2 linked regions of the Homo sapiens genome follow. The protein of the gene in region 1 purifies or fractionates together with the protein of each later gene. This does not show direct contact. Each region holds a gene or a part of one and is shown on either strand. Other genes may lie near its edges.

Region 1 (7,024 bases):
AATGTGACATAAATGACATAGCAACAGTGTGAGGTCTCCCAATGAAGGGAGGTATTAGAAGAAAATCCAAGCAGTTTGATTTGGATTAATAGTTCTACCCCAAACACCTAAGAGAAATCGGAATTCCAGTACTGTCTCTTACAATATAGTCATCATCTATACACCTTTTTACCACGCCATATAAGCAAAATAAAGTCACAATGTGAAACTTTACTCCACTGGCTATTACCCTCTGGAACCAAAAGATGGAAAACTTCATTTGGGATATACAGTAATCTAAAGAAAAATTCAGCACTTATGAATGTAATAACTACTGTTACCATTTGAATGCCTCTTACAAACCAGGCACAGTATCAGATGCATATTCTGATTTTAGAAATAAACAGATTCAGAGGTTAAATAATCTGCCAAAAACAACAGGATTACTAAGTGGTGGAAGCCAGATCTGTTTAGGATCCAAAGCCTAAATAGGTTCTTTTCACTAAATTTAATACTATTTCCTTAGTTCTCCAAACTGATTTATTAACAGCCTATCCAAAACACTATAATAAAATGAACTGCTTTAAATTTGGAGGCAAGGTAGGGGTGGGATACTGAGTTTCAATAATCAGGTTTCTTCATTATTCTTTTACCTGAATGGGCTGGCCACCAGGCCACAATTGTATAAAAATCAGATTTTAAATGATGGAAAAGCTTTTCTGTGTGGCTACTGAAGGGAGAAAGGAAGACAACTGAGACATGCCCCACCTTGCTGGCTGGGGGCTGGTGACATCTGTGGGCCTCAGTGTTGGACTCCAGATGCAACAAAGCCTAAAGTTTTGAATATGTATGAAGGTCAATGTGATGTTTTCCAAAAACAGTCATAAAAGATGGCTGTGAAAAACCCCCTAGTATAACAACTGTATGTAACAAGAGCATATAGGTAGCTGCAGATGAATGCTCAGGTCCTTAGCTGTGGTGTTTAAAAATTCTTCAGACCAGGCTGGGTGCAGTGGCTCACACCTGCAATCCCAGCACTTTGGGAGGCCGAGATGGGTGGATTGCCTGAGCTCAGGTGTTAGAGACCAGCCTGGGAAACACAGTGAAACCCCATCTCTACTAAAATACAAAAAAAAAAAAAAGCCAGGCGTGGCAGCGTGCGCCTGTAGTCCCAGCTACTTGGGAGGCTGAGGCAGGAGAATTGCTTGAACCCGGGAGGTGGAGGTTGCAGTGAGCCAAGGTCGTGCCACTGCACTCCAGCCTGGCAACAGAGTGAGATGCTATCTCCCAAAAAAAAAAAAAAAAAAAAAAAAAAAAAAAATTTCTTCGGACCAGTGTGGTGGCTCATGAGTGTAATCTCAGCACTTTGGGAGGCTGAGTTAAGAGGACTGCTTGAGCCCAGGAGTTTGAGACCAGCCTGGGCAACATGGTGAGACCTTGTCTCTACAAAAAAAATTAACAACTACCCACAAAGAAAACCCTAGCTCAAGATGGCTTCACTGGAAGGAAAAATGAACTGGTCAGGAAGACAGACAAATAGAAGCAAATAATGAAAGCATTTTATTTGACATTGATAACCTTCTCACAATAAATTATGTGGCAAAATACATGCTTGAATACTTAATTGCTAGGCAATAGTCTATTTTCATTTTTTCACAAAAGGTAGACAACTCCAAAGCAGATGGCCATTTGTAGCCATTCTATATAATCATAAATACACAAAACACTGGCCGGGCGCGGTGGCTCACGCCTGTAACCCCAGCACTTTGGGAGGCTGAGGCGGGTGGATCACCTGAGGTCAGGAGTTTGAGGCCAGCGTGGCCAACATGGCGACACCCCGCCTCTACTAAAAATACAAAAATTAGCCCGGTGGGGTGGCATGCACCTGTAATCCCAGTTACTTAGGAGGCTGAGAGAGGAGAATCACTTGAACCCAGGAGGCAGAGATTGCGCCACTGCACTCCAGCTTGGGCGACAGAGCAAGACTCCATCTCAAAAAAAAAAAAAAAAAAAGTTTTAAAGTGCCGATAAATACAAGTTCCTGGTCTGCCTACAGTTTATCACTTAATAATACAAAGCAAACAAGAAAGCAAGTTAGTGGATTACCTGAGAGAGCAAGACATAGAGAAGATGTTAATGCAGGGAGCTGGCCTTCTCCAAACATATCCCTAACACACAATATTCAAGCAATTCCCAAACTGTGATCAGAGAACCACTGGGAGTAAGACCTCTGATCTATATTTACAAGTCTATAGGTGAGCAAAGGTAGACCTTTTCCTGAGTCTGAGATGGGAATATTACCTTCTCTATCTAGAAGCAAAAGAATCCTAGACTCACCAGGACTAGGTAATAGACACTGTACACGAGTAATTGAGGTAATCTACACTGGGCGTGACTTACATACTGATCCACCCCTAGGCAGCAATTCATACCTCACCCACCCAACAGGCTACATTAGAAACAAGGAAGTACAGGTCAAAAGTCTCATTAAAAAAATAAGAACTCTTGGCAGCAGAAAATGAAAATAAAGAATGAAGAATGACAGCACTGGCAATAAACACATTCTTTTCTCCGAAAGGGAAGGGAAAGAACTAATGTTGGGCACCCACATGCCAGACATTTTATCAATTTTCTCCTTTAATCCTCAATAATCCTGAGATAATACTAGCTAGTACTCTAGTTATTAATCCTCACAAAAATCCTGAGGTAGGTACTACTAATTCCCATGTTACAGGTGAAGAAACCAAAAGTTAGTAAGTTGCCCAAGGTAGTTGTTATCCGAACTGTAGAGACAAGAACTCCCAGACTTGAAGAGGTTAAGTAAACTTCCCCAAACTCAAAGTGGGAGTTCTTTCCCACTAACCTATTGCCTTCCCCTCCCTACCCGCAATCTCAATTAATTCTCTATTCTACCCCCTTCTCATTTCTGCAGCTGTTTCAAAAACTACACCTAAGATACAAAGCAAATAGGAGTTATTATAAGAAAACACCTCCAAAATCTACTAAGTTGTGGTATGATATGCCTGTTATCAGAAAACGTCACTCAATTTTGAGCTTGGAGGGCAGTGACAGTTTGGAGATCTTTAGCACAACGCCTGCCAGAAACGTGGCAGGCGCTCAGGATCTGCTGAATGAACAACATCTTCTGAGTGGTTATGAATTCAATAACCCAAAATGACCATCTCGTATTTCTGGATATGACATGATACCATTTTTTGGAAAATAATTTACCCATTCATTTTAAACAGGGTAGCTTTCTTAAAATTTATAGAACATTGATGAGATAGCTAAACTGAGAAATGCCCATTAAAGCATTAGTCATAACTTCAGGAAAATTTCAAATGTTCACTTTTCCAAGCAAATTAAAATGTTTCAGCTAATAAAAACCTGTCAGAAAAACCCACAAGACAAGAAAGTATAAAAAGAAAAGAGCAGCCAATATAAGGGCATTTAAGATGTCACACATAAAAAATTATAAAACATTAATCTAACTTGTACCTTGGTATTTAACCCTAAAACTGTCACCTCAGATAACACAATATTTTCTATGCAAGAAAACATTATCACCACGAATGTAAAGAAGCTTGCCGACCATAGCAACTGTTGCTACGTAGGGTTTTTTAATGTCTAAGACTGAAAGACAGAATTTGTAGAAACCAGTTAAAATGCCACTCTTAGCAGTATCTTGTGATACTGTGAATGCTTTCACCTTAAACTTTTTAAAAGACTCAATCTTTGACTTCTACATGTGAAAAAAAAAAAGTACATCTGGGAGCACTCAACGTAAGAAAACTACCAATTGTCTATAACCCAATGAAAATACATCCTTTGTTACAATGACAGCAGCTACTTTTCCTTAATAATCCTAGAGGAATTTCTTCATTTGAAAAGCTGGCTGGCCTAGATTTCTCTATAAACTAAATGACATGCTACTTTCGAAATTATCCATTTCAGAAGTTCAAAGAAATTCAGGTATAAGAACACATTAATACTCTCATGAAACAAACCTTATCCAGGTTACCCACGAATTGTGACAGATCAAAACCCAGTTTCTCATTTCAAATCAAGTATCACATTATTTATTACCTTAAAATACTAAGCCCTTACCTAATTCAATGGCAAATCATATTGGTTTTCAGTTTCTGAACTTGTACAAATCATACTGTAATATTTATGCAAAAGTTGTCATATAGTTGAATATTATAGACAGTTAACATCTTTTTTTTTTTTTTTTGAGACGGAGTCTTGCTCTGTCCCCCAGGCTGGAGTGCAGTGGCGTGATCTTGACTCACTGCAACCAACCTCCGTCTCCCAGGTTCAAGTGATTCTCAGCCTCCTGAGTAGCTGGGACCACAGGCACGCACCTCCACACTCAGCTAATTTTAGTAGAGATGGGGTTTTACCATGTTGGCCAGGCTGGTCTTGTCCTGACCTCAAGTCATCTGCCCACCTCGGCCTCTCAAAGAACTGGGATTACAGGTGTGAGCCACCATGCCCGGCCAACAGTAGAAAAGGGTACTCAGGGAACATAGTTCAAAAGTCATGATTCTCTATTGGCTGGACCAGGATTCTAGACTAGCTCTAGGGCTGAGATATCTTAGTAGACCAGTTAACATTCATGTGGCCCAATTTCCCTTACTCTAAACCCAAAGTCAAACATAACCTCTAAAGTCTTTCATACCCTGAAATGCTAATCTTGTAATCATCTTTCTATTCAGGTAATAACTCAAAAGAAATGGTCTCACTTCCTTCATCCTCTGACTAAAGTTTAGTTAGTCCATATTTTATGAATCCAATTAATAGGATACTTTAAAGAACAAAAAGAAAAGACTTTTCTTAAAAGCTAGAAACTCCATTCTGTAGTGATGATTCCCAGATCTGACTCTTAAACTCAACAACCTCAACAGACAATGACAGGGAGAAAAGATCTTACAAGTTTGAGCTGAGCTGGGGTGGGGTGGGAGGTGTGAGAGAACAGAGAGACAGTTACAAATTCACAAAAATGTATCACCCATTTCCATCTCCTCTAAAAAAATATGAAATAAGCCTTAAAAGGCTGTCATAGAAACCCATTATTAAGCCAATAAAAACTAATGAAGAAATTATGTCATTTATCCAAGATATGGAAGAACCACCTATTTACAGAAATCCTACCAATGTCCTAGACCTTCAGAAACTACATCTCACTAAGCTGACCATCAAGCCCCTTCAAACTGCATCTAAGGACAATAATAATATTCAAACATCAAGAAACAGGCACAGGTTCCACTCAACACCATTATTCCGTGGAGTCTTCCAGGACTAAATTGTTTTATAGAATCTTTGCTATCTTTGTTCTCTAGAAAATGATATCCCAAAGACTCTAAAATAAAACCAGCAAAACCCCTGTATTTGTTTTCCATTGTGTCATAACAAATTATCACAAACAAAACAACACAAATGGATTATCTTACAGAAGTCAGTGGGCTTGACTGGGTCTCACAAGGGCTAAATGAGGGTATCCAGTGGGTGGGTTCCCTGCTGGAAACTCTGGGGAAAATTTGCTTCCACATTCATTCAAGCTATTGGCTGAATTTAGTTCCTTGCAGCTGTAGGACTGAGTTCCCACTTCCTTGCTGGTTGTCAGCTGGGACTGGCCTTTCCTACTAGAGGCTGCCTGCATTCCCCGTCTCACACTTTCAATCTGGTCCCCTCCAGTAACGGCAGGCTGAGTCCTTCTCATGCTTCAAATTTGACTTCCCCTTCTGCCTCATCTCTGACACCAGCCAGAAAAAGTTCTCTGCTTTTAAGTGCTTATGTGAGTAGAATAAACCCACCCAGAAAATCCAAGATAATCTACCTAAGATCCTTAACTTTAATTAAATCTACTTAACATATTCATGTTCCAGGGTTTATAGTATGGAAATCGTAGGGGAGCCATTCTGCTTACCGCAGTCTGCCTTCTGGTTTCCAAGGATTCATCTCTCTCTCAAATGCAAAATACATCCATCCCATCCCAAGGTCCCAAAGGTTTCCCATCTAAAGCTTATCATTTCAGAAGTCCCAAATCTCATTCATCTATTCAGGTGTGGATGAGGTTCTGGGGACAAAACAGTAAGTCCAATTCCTGGGGCACAATTCCTAAAGAAACAAGTTCTCTACTCCCAACATACCACTGTGAGACATGTAGAGAATAACAGTTAGACATTCCAGTTCAAATGGGCAAAATGTAAAAGAAAACAGAGCCTCCGGTCCAAAGCAGTTTCAAAATCTAGGGAATCTCCATTCCATTTCAAAGCCTGGGAAAAATCCTCTCCAGCTTTTAGCTCCACCCCTCTGGGCTCTCCTATCTCCGTCTGAGTCACCCTGATTCTTTTATGAAAAGCAACACATTCACATGTGAGTAGTTTTATCAGCCTGCTTCCTATCAGTAGAATTTGGGGGGTCCAACAGCCCTATTACTTTCTGTCTCTTTCAATCCAAACTAGAACTGTTTATGTTGGCATAAAATTCTCAAGAACCTAATGGGCTGTGGAAGTATTCCACATGGGTCCACTCCATTAAAGTTCACATTCACAAATAAACCAGGCTGCACATTTAATACTTTGCTTGGAAATCTCAGCTAAATATACAAGTTCATCACTTGCAAATTTGGCTTTCCATATAACCATAGGATACAATTCTGCTAAACTTAGTTGCTACTATGTAACAAGGATCCCCTTTCTGCCAGTTTCCAATAAGAAAGACCTCACTTCTGTCTGGGCCCTCACTAGCAGAGTCATTAACATCCATATTGCTACTAAAAGTATGTCCTAGGCCTTTTCTTTTTTGACAGGGTCTCACTCTGCCACCCAGGCTGGAGTGCAGTGGTGCCATTACCGCTCACTGCAGCCTTGACTTCCTGGGCTCAAGCGATCCTCCTGTGTTCCAGGCCTTTTCTATCATGCCCCTCAAAACAATTCTAACCTTTATCTACTGCCACTTTCATTTTTAGGTAATAGTACCCCACTCCTGGTACCAAAATCTATACTAGTGTTCTACTGCTGCCATAACAAATTACCACAAA
Region 2 (7,674 bases), on another chromosome or scaffold:
AGCTAAAGGTCGTGGAAAAAAATGGAACTGGGGAGCTAGGTAATTACAGAACTTTCTCAAGGAACCTAAGTAAGAACATCCTCTACCTCCAGAAAAGGAGCCCTCACAATGTCTGCCTACTAGGATTTCAGAATTGCTGTGCACCAGTAACTGCAGTGTGCCTCTTATTTTTCCCATTTCTGAATTGAGATGGTTAATTACGGTTATCTTCTCCCCATTCCACATTGCATGACAGATGGGACTGAGGGAGTACATAACTTTTTTTACATGTCTTAGTCCATGGTTCAAGAGGAAGAGAAAGCAAAATTCTGTCCTTTGGAGTCTGATACTGGGATTGGAGGTGTTTTCCTTCCAGAAAGAAGCAAATATTTGCAACCAAGAGTGTAGACTGGTAGACTGTAGGACTGACTCTAACTATTTGCTCTTCTGTAAGAGGATAGTACGTTTACCCTGCCATATGACTTCCTGTGACTGTGAGAATACACTTCTCAGTCCTACTGATGTAGAACTGGCCTTGTGACTTACTTTGGCCAGTGGAGCGTGAGTAGAAGTGATATCATGAAGTGTCATGTCTGAGTAGAAGTATTACGATCCACTGCATGGTTTGATCATTCTATTTTCCCTTTGCTGAGATGTGAATGGCACATCTCAGAAGGGAATTGCTCCTTCACCGGGTAACCTGAGCAAATCATTGTAAGCCCCTGAAATTATGTAGTTTGTTACTGTGGCATAATATATGTTAGTGAATGCTGGCCAATACAAATTTACAGTGTTATCTATTCAACTTACCTCAGAAACACTAAGGTCACAGAGAGAGACAGAATTAATACCAGGTAATTCAACTTTCAACTCAATTTTCAGAGGTTTCTCACTGTGATCATGCACAATTTTTAGTTCATAGGCTGGCATCTTCATCTCCACCTGGATTTCAGTACTGGAAATCTCTTCTATCAGACACACTGCTTTGCCTGAAACTTGGTCTTTTGGCAGTAACAGTTGAGGAAAGTGATCTGGATTGCTCATAGTACTGCTTCGTATCTGTCCAAGAGTTAGTTCTTTATGAAAAAAAGGGTGGAGGGGAGATAAAAAATAAATCTACAACATAAAATACTATGAGCTATAATATATGTGGTGTTAGTAGAGATGGTAGATAAAGCTGCAGTTAAATTAGTTTGGGAATCAAGCCAAAAGAATCTTAAACCAAAGAATTTGATTGAAAATTTTTCAGGATTTAAAAATCAAGGATATGATATTTCTAATATTTAATATTTGCATTTTTCTATCTTAAGTTTTTCACCTTTTAAAATAGAGATTTCTAGTTTGCAAAATGTATACAGGATCCAAAAACATCTTAAAGCAGTTTAATTTTCCATTTACAATCATCAACTTACCCCTTCTCATTTTTTCTCTTAAATCTATGGAATCAGTTTGGATTCCCATCAGATTTTGTTTCATTCTTTGAATGCTTCCTTTTATTCTAAATTTGGTAATATGGTAAGAGTGTGAGAGGGTGAACTGGAATTTCTCCTCAATGCATTTCATGGCCATCTGAATTAACTGATTTTTTTTCACTTGGTCCTTTTCTGCTGCATGAAGAACATCAGGATTGTAGGCAACATCAATGACTGTGTAAGCATCTGTGTGTGTAATTGAAAGGGTATGAAATGAAGAAAAATTGTTGCACTAATGATACTGTCAGGCAATATATTAAACCATATTCCTGATAAAGCTAGAGAATATTCCTGTATTTTTCAGAGGTAATCACAGTAGTGCTACAGCAATTATGACATTTCTTGGCACTTTTGCATGGATTAAAACAGCTCACCTTATTACAAAAGTTAAACAGTATTAAATTTGCATAAAGATACACTAATTGTAATTATATTATCAACAAATAAAGAGTTTTACTTGAAATGCTCTCAACCAAGTAAGATCTTGTCCATTCCTAATAAAATTTTTACAATGTGCTTTCTCTCAATTATTTGTACCTGATATCTCAGTTGTATCTTCTGGTTTGCCAACAGTTAGAGGTACTGGATGAGTGGTTGATTGGGGAGCTGGGATCCTTGTCCACTGACACAGGTTGATAAAAAGTATTTTTTCTTTTGGTTTCTGGAAAGCAAATAATTTTGCACATCTCAAAACCTAGTTTAAAACCATTTAAGGCCAGGCATGGTGGCTCCCGCCTGTAATCCGAGCACTTTGGGGGTCCAAGGCGGCCGGATCACCTGAGGTCAGGAATTTGAGACCAGCCTGGCCAACATGGTGAAACTCCGTTTCTACTAAAAATACAAAAATTAGCCAGGTGTGGTGGTGGATACCTGTAATCCCAGCTACTCGGGAGGCTGAGGCAGGAGAATCGCTTGAACCCAGGAGGCGGAGGTTGCAGTGAGCCAAGATTGTGCCATTGCACTCCTGCCCGGGTGACGAGAGTGAAACTCCATCTCAAAAAAAACAAAAACAAAAACATTTAAAAAATAATATCCTAAAAGCCACTCACCACAGGAATGAAAGAATTTTAGGCTCCAAGTAAGTCATTTCATGTATTAAAACTGCGTTTGATTATACTGTTGTTATTTGATTTCCCCAAGGCTGCTGGCTTTTAATTAGGAATCCAGACTGGGGTGGTGGCTCACGTATGTTACCCTAGTACTTTGAGAGGCTGAGGTAGGAGGGTTGCTTGAGGCCTAGGAGTTCGAGATTAGCCTGTGAAACATAGGGAGACCCTGTCTCTACAAAAATCATTTAAAAATTAGCCGGGTGTGGTGATGCCCACCTGTGATCCCAGCTACTTGGGAGGCTGAGGTGGGAGGATCGCTTGGGCTGCAATGAGCTGTGATTGTGAGCTGTGATTGTGCCACTGCACTCCAGCTTGAGCGACAGAGCCAGCAAGACCCTATCTCAAAAAAAAAAAAAAAAAAAAAAAAAAAAAGTCTGCCAGGCGCAGTGGCTCATGCCTGTAATCCCAGCACTTTGGGAGGCTGAGTCAGGTGGATCACCTGAAGTCAGGAGTTCAAGACCAGCCTGGCCAACATGGTGAAACCCCGCCTCTACTAATAATACAAAAATTAGCCGGGCATGGTAGTACACACCTGTAATCCCAGCTACTTGGGAGGCTGAGGCAGGAGAATCGCTTAAACCCGGGAGGCAGAGGTTGCAGCGAGCCAAGACCACACCATTGCACTCCAGCCTGGTGACAAAGTAAGACTCTGTCTCAAAAAACAAAACAAAACAAAACAAAACAAAAAAAAAACAAAAAAAATTAGCAATACCTAAGTGTAAAGTATTCTCTGGTTATTCTGGGATCATTTCATTCAAGACCTCCCCATCCCTGGCACCAACTCGACATACCAGAATCCTGGTCTGTAGACAAAGCTGTGGTTCTGGGGCAGCACAGAGCTGTTTCCCTTCTTTCAGCTGCTGCTGAATAAACTTCTCATAGCCCTCAGGGTCACTCTGAGCTAGATCATCTAGGAGGTTCCAAAACTGAGTAACTTGGGTAAGCAGACCTTTTGAGGATGTCTCCATGACTTATGAGTGGTGAATAATTTTCTTAAGCCTGTGGAAAAACACGACTTCAGGAAGAAAACTGTCTGTGTAATTATTGATTCATTTCTGCTTTGGGGAGGTGGAATGGGTCAGGAATTGTTTTGGTGAAGTTAGGACAGCATTTGTGTCTAAAAGGTTGTGGATCAGCACCACTTTATGTTTTCCTTATTCTTTAATTATCTAGTACCTCTTCCTAAATTCTCACATTGTCCTCTCAGATAAGGCCTTACTTCTATTTGGACCCTGACAAGTCAGAGTAATCATTTTAAGTCTGGGTTTCCTGATCTTCTTGTTCCAACACCTGACTGGTGGCTCCCCAGTTCTGAAATTGCCAGAGGTGTGGTGTGGGGTGAGGGCCACATAAGACTTCCTTAATCCTCAGTATAGTTTAGTATTTCAAAGCATGGACTTGTGAGCCAGAATGCCTAGATTCCGGTCTTAGTTCTATCTCTCACTAGCTCTGTGACCTTGAGCAATTAATGTTCTGTTCAAAATGAAGACGATAATACCTCTACCATAGGATTATTGCGAGATTAAGTAAGCTAATAGAGAGGCTGGGACACTTCTCTACGTCTTCAGATAAATCTCCTTAGCCTCTTCTCCCATTGGAGAGGTGTCCCACAGCATCTTTAGAATGAGGAAAAGAGGTTTAGATTCTTCAATTACTGTGTAAGGGTTATGCTAAACGGGAAACTTAACTAACGGATAATCATTCCATAGGTCTGCAAACCCACCTCTTCTCTCAGTTCTAACGGGTAATCATTCTATAGGTTGGCAAACCCACCTCTTCTCTCAGTTCCTTGACAAACCGCGACGCCTGTTACCAGGGTAACCAGCCTGGGTACAACATCTAATTGGGTCCGGGGAACTTCAGGGAGAAAAGTCTCTTCATATCTAGTTCCGGAATGTCCCCCTTCTGGTGCCAGGCTTGCTTTTCAGTTGGGCCTGACCCACTTCTCTTCCAGGAAAGCGCCCGCCTTCCTTCTGCACCCGTCAACCTCTGGAGTGTCCTGAAAACCCTCCCTTGTGGGAGTCTCTGGGCTGCCTGTTGGTGGGACGATTTCTCAGGAGCACGACTTCCGGCCTGAAAAGGAAGTCTCCTCCTTTTTCTCCCAAACCACTTCTTCCCCCCTACCCCCCGCCACGCGAGGCTGCGGCGCACGGTATGGGTGTGTTTGTGTGTATTTGTGTGGGGAGGGCGTTTGGAGGGAAGGTTACCGGGAGCTCCGAGGCCGCTGGGGAACAGGGATCCCGGTGACAAAGATGGGGATATTTCCTCTGTCTTCCACTTGGAAACCTCAACCCCCGCTTCAGGCTCCCTAGATACTTTCTGGGGCCCAACCGAAGGCCGTAGCCATCCAAAGCGTTCCCAGCCTTTCTGGGGAGTGAAACTTACCCCCGGGGTTCGTCCTAGAGGAGCGTGAGCGGGGAATGCCCAGGTCAACCGGGCTGTCCGAATTCCGCCCCGGCTCAGCCTCCGGCCTCAGTCCGGGAGAGAGATCTGCCTGTCGGTCTGGGCTGGGGGAAACGCGGCAGTGGCCTGGGCCACAGGTGAGGGCAGAGTAACCAGTGGGAAGGCTGCGTTTTCACGAAGGACTCGGGTGAAGCTGCAGAGCTGCCTTTGAGCCCTGACTCCTTGGCTTCCTGGGTCGGAGGAGATCTTGTAATGGAGTGGTTCTTCGTCTCACTAGCAAGATGCCTGATTTCCTCAGGATCAAGGGGTGAGTGAGCGTTGGGGTGGTTGCACAAAGCTCCTGCTAGCTACACACGAAAATATTCTTGTCATCTAGTTTTTGGAAGCTTCCGTAGCAAGTAGGAAATAAAATGCCCCCAAATGGAGAAATTTAGGACATCTTTGCATTTGATGTTTTGAGTAATCAGTTTCTGTTACTGTTGACACCCGTGGTTCCTGACACTCTCAAATCTACGTATTTGCTTCAGTGCAAACTATATTGGGATTGGAGGTTTGATTTTTAATTTAGACAGTGACATACATCATTTGCCTGGGACTATGTGGCTTGGGACGTTACAGCTTTAAGGGAACTTCATCTACAAAATAGGGATGGAGATACTTGCCTCATATAAAAAGTAGTTATGAGGATTAAATAAAATGGTGCTCATGAAAGCACTTAATTTTATGTAGTCTTGTGCATTTTCAAAGAACTTTAATGTACATTATCTCCTTTCATCTCACATTAGTGTGTTTAGGCATTTCCCTCTTTTAATGGTAAAGGGAAAACTATTCTTTAGAATCTCTGACTTCTAGTTCAGTGATCTTTCCTGTACCTCATATGCTTCTTTATAAAACTTCAAGAAAAGATAAAGTAATAACAGAAATTATTACTAAACGTTATTTGTTGATTCATTTCAGATTGAAGAATGTCCCGGATTCCACTGGGGAAGGTCCTCCTGAGGAATGTCATCCGGCACACAGATGCTCACAATAAGGTGGGAGGTACAACCTAGTTACTCCTCAACGCTTACTGAAGGCAAGCAGTGTGCCAAGCATTATTTTGGAACAACTGGGAGATACAAAGAATATTCTTGTCATCTAGTTTTTGGAAGCTTCCGTACACAGTAGGAAATAAAATGATGAATAAAATAGATAATTATAATACAGTTTGATAAGTACTGTATAACAGAGATATTTGCAAAGTGCTTTGGAGCACTAAGGAGGAAATAATAAAATCTACACTGGGGAATTAGAAAAGATTTTACAGAATTAGTGGTATTTCAGCTGCTGATCTTTGAACTGGTTCTTGAATAGGTATACGTTTACCAGGTATGAAATATCATTCTGGATAGACAGCATCATGCATTAATATGGCAACGAGAAAGAGCATTAATCACTTGGGGCATGGCAAGAAATTTATCCAGAAAGCAGGGAAGGTAGGGGATAGTGGCAGAAGATAAGGCCTCAGTGGTAATTAGAGTTGGATTGTGATGTTTGGAGCTGAGACTTCTTCCTCTAGGCAATAAAGAAGCCATCAAATGTTTTTAAACAGGGTGTGGCATGATCATAGTTATATTTTAGAAAGATGGTTTGTCAGCTGGGTAGGGAATGAATCAGATGGGGAGATACAGAAGGGAGAGTAATTAGGAGGCAATTGCAGTATTACAGGTGAGAGATGATGAGGGTTCGCATGAAATTAGTGACAGCAGGGATGAAGAAGAGGAATTTAGGAGATAGAATCCAAAGAAGTTGGTGGCTAATTAGATTATAATGATAAGAATGGAATCTAATTCAGTTGACCCTTGAACAATGCAGGGGCTAGGGGCATCAACCCCCTGCATAGTCGAAAATCCATGTATAACTTTTTACTCCCTCAAAATGTAAGTGCCAATAGCCTACTACTGACTGAAAGCCATAGCGATACCATAAACAGTGGATTAACACATATTTTTTATGTTACATGTATTATATACTGTATTCTTATAGTAAAGTAGCTAGAGAAAACAACATTTCATTAAGAAAATCACATTGAGTAGGCTGAGGAGGAAGAAGAGGGACTTGTTTTGCTATCTTACAGGTGGCAGAGGTGGAAGAAAATCTGAGGATAAGTGGACCTGCACAGTTGAGATTCCTGTTGTTCAAGGTCAACTGTGTAACCACCTATGTGACTGGGTAGATGATGACAATTCTGTTAATTGAGATAAAGAACAAAAAATGGGACAATTATGATAGGAAAGGTAATTAGTTTGGTTTTCAACATGTTGATGGTGAGGTGCTTATAGGATGTCCAAGCAGTTGAAAATTCAGACTTGGAGTAGAGGAGAAAAGTTGGGGCTGGACATAAAGGTTTCGGGATTATTGATGTATAGGTTGATGATAAGAGGTCATGAGAGTAGATGAGGTCACCTAGGAGAGCACATATAATGAAAAGAGGGCCAAGGCCCCTGGTTTAGTTTTCTTCAGTAAACTGTACTACTTTTGGTTTGATCATATTATTATTATCATATCACCTGATTTTTAAAATTATGGGCGAGGGTAAAACTGTTACCCGAGCTGCCTATGCAATTATGTTAACCTGCCCCTAGTTATATAGTAAGCTTAGATTTAAAATGGTAGCTAGAAAAAGATAAATCTAGCACAGATCTAATGAAATTATGCAGGAAGACTTAGAA

The links. The genes of interacting proteins can lie anywhere in the genome.
Region 2: the proteins of CSNK2A1 (region 1) and NKAPD1 purify together in Homo sapiens (affinity purification with mass spectrometry; 5 studies listed by BioGRID and IntAct, with this or other methods). This does not show direct contact.

The regions. Positions count from the first base shown.
Region 1 is NC_000020.11:533,767-540,790, forward strand, and holds part of CSNK2A1 (casein kinase II subunit alpha), read right to left. Parts: intron 1-7,024. UniProt on the Homo sapiens protein: Catalytic subunit of a constitutively active serine/threonine-protein kinase complex that phosphorylates a large number of substrates containing acidic residues C-terminal to the phosphorylated serine or threonine.
Region 2 is NC_000011.10:112,069,647-112,077,320, forward strand, and holds the start of NKAPD1 (uncharacterized protein NKAPD1), read left to right. Parts: upstream 1-4,652; 5' UTR 4,653-5,270; intron 5,271-5,920; 5' UTR 5,921-5,928; coding exon 5,929-5,997; exon of another isoform or gene 5,998-6,038; intron 6,039-7,674. Other genes in the region: PIH1D2 (PIH1 domain-containing protein 2), read right to left, coding at 790-1,055, 1,392-1,637, 1,989-2,112, 3,352-3,528.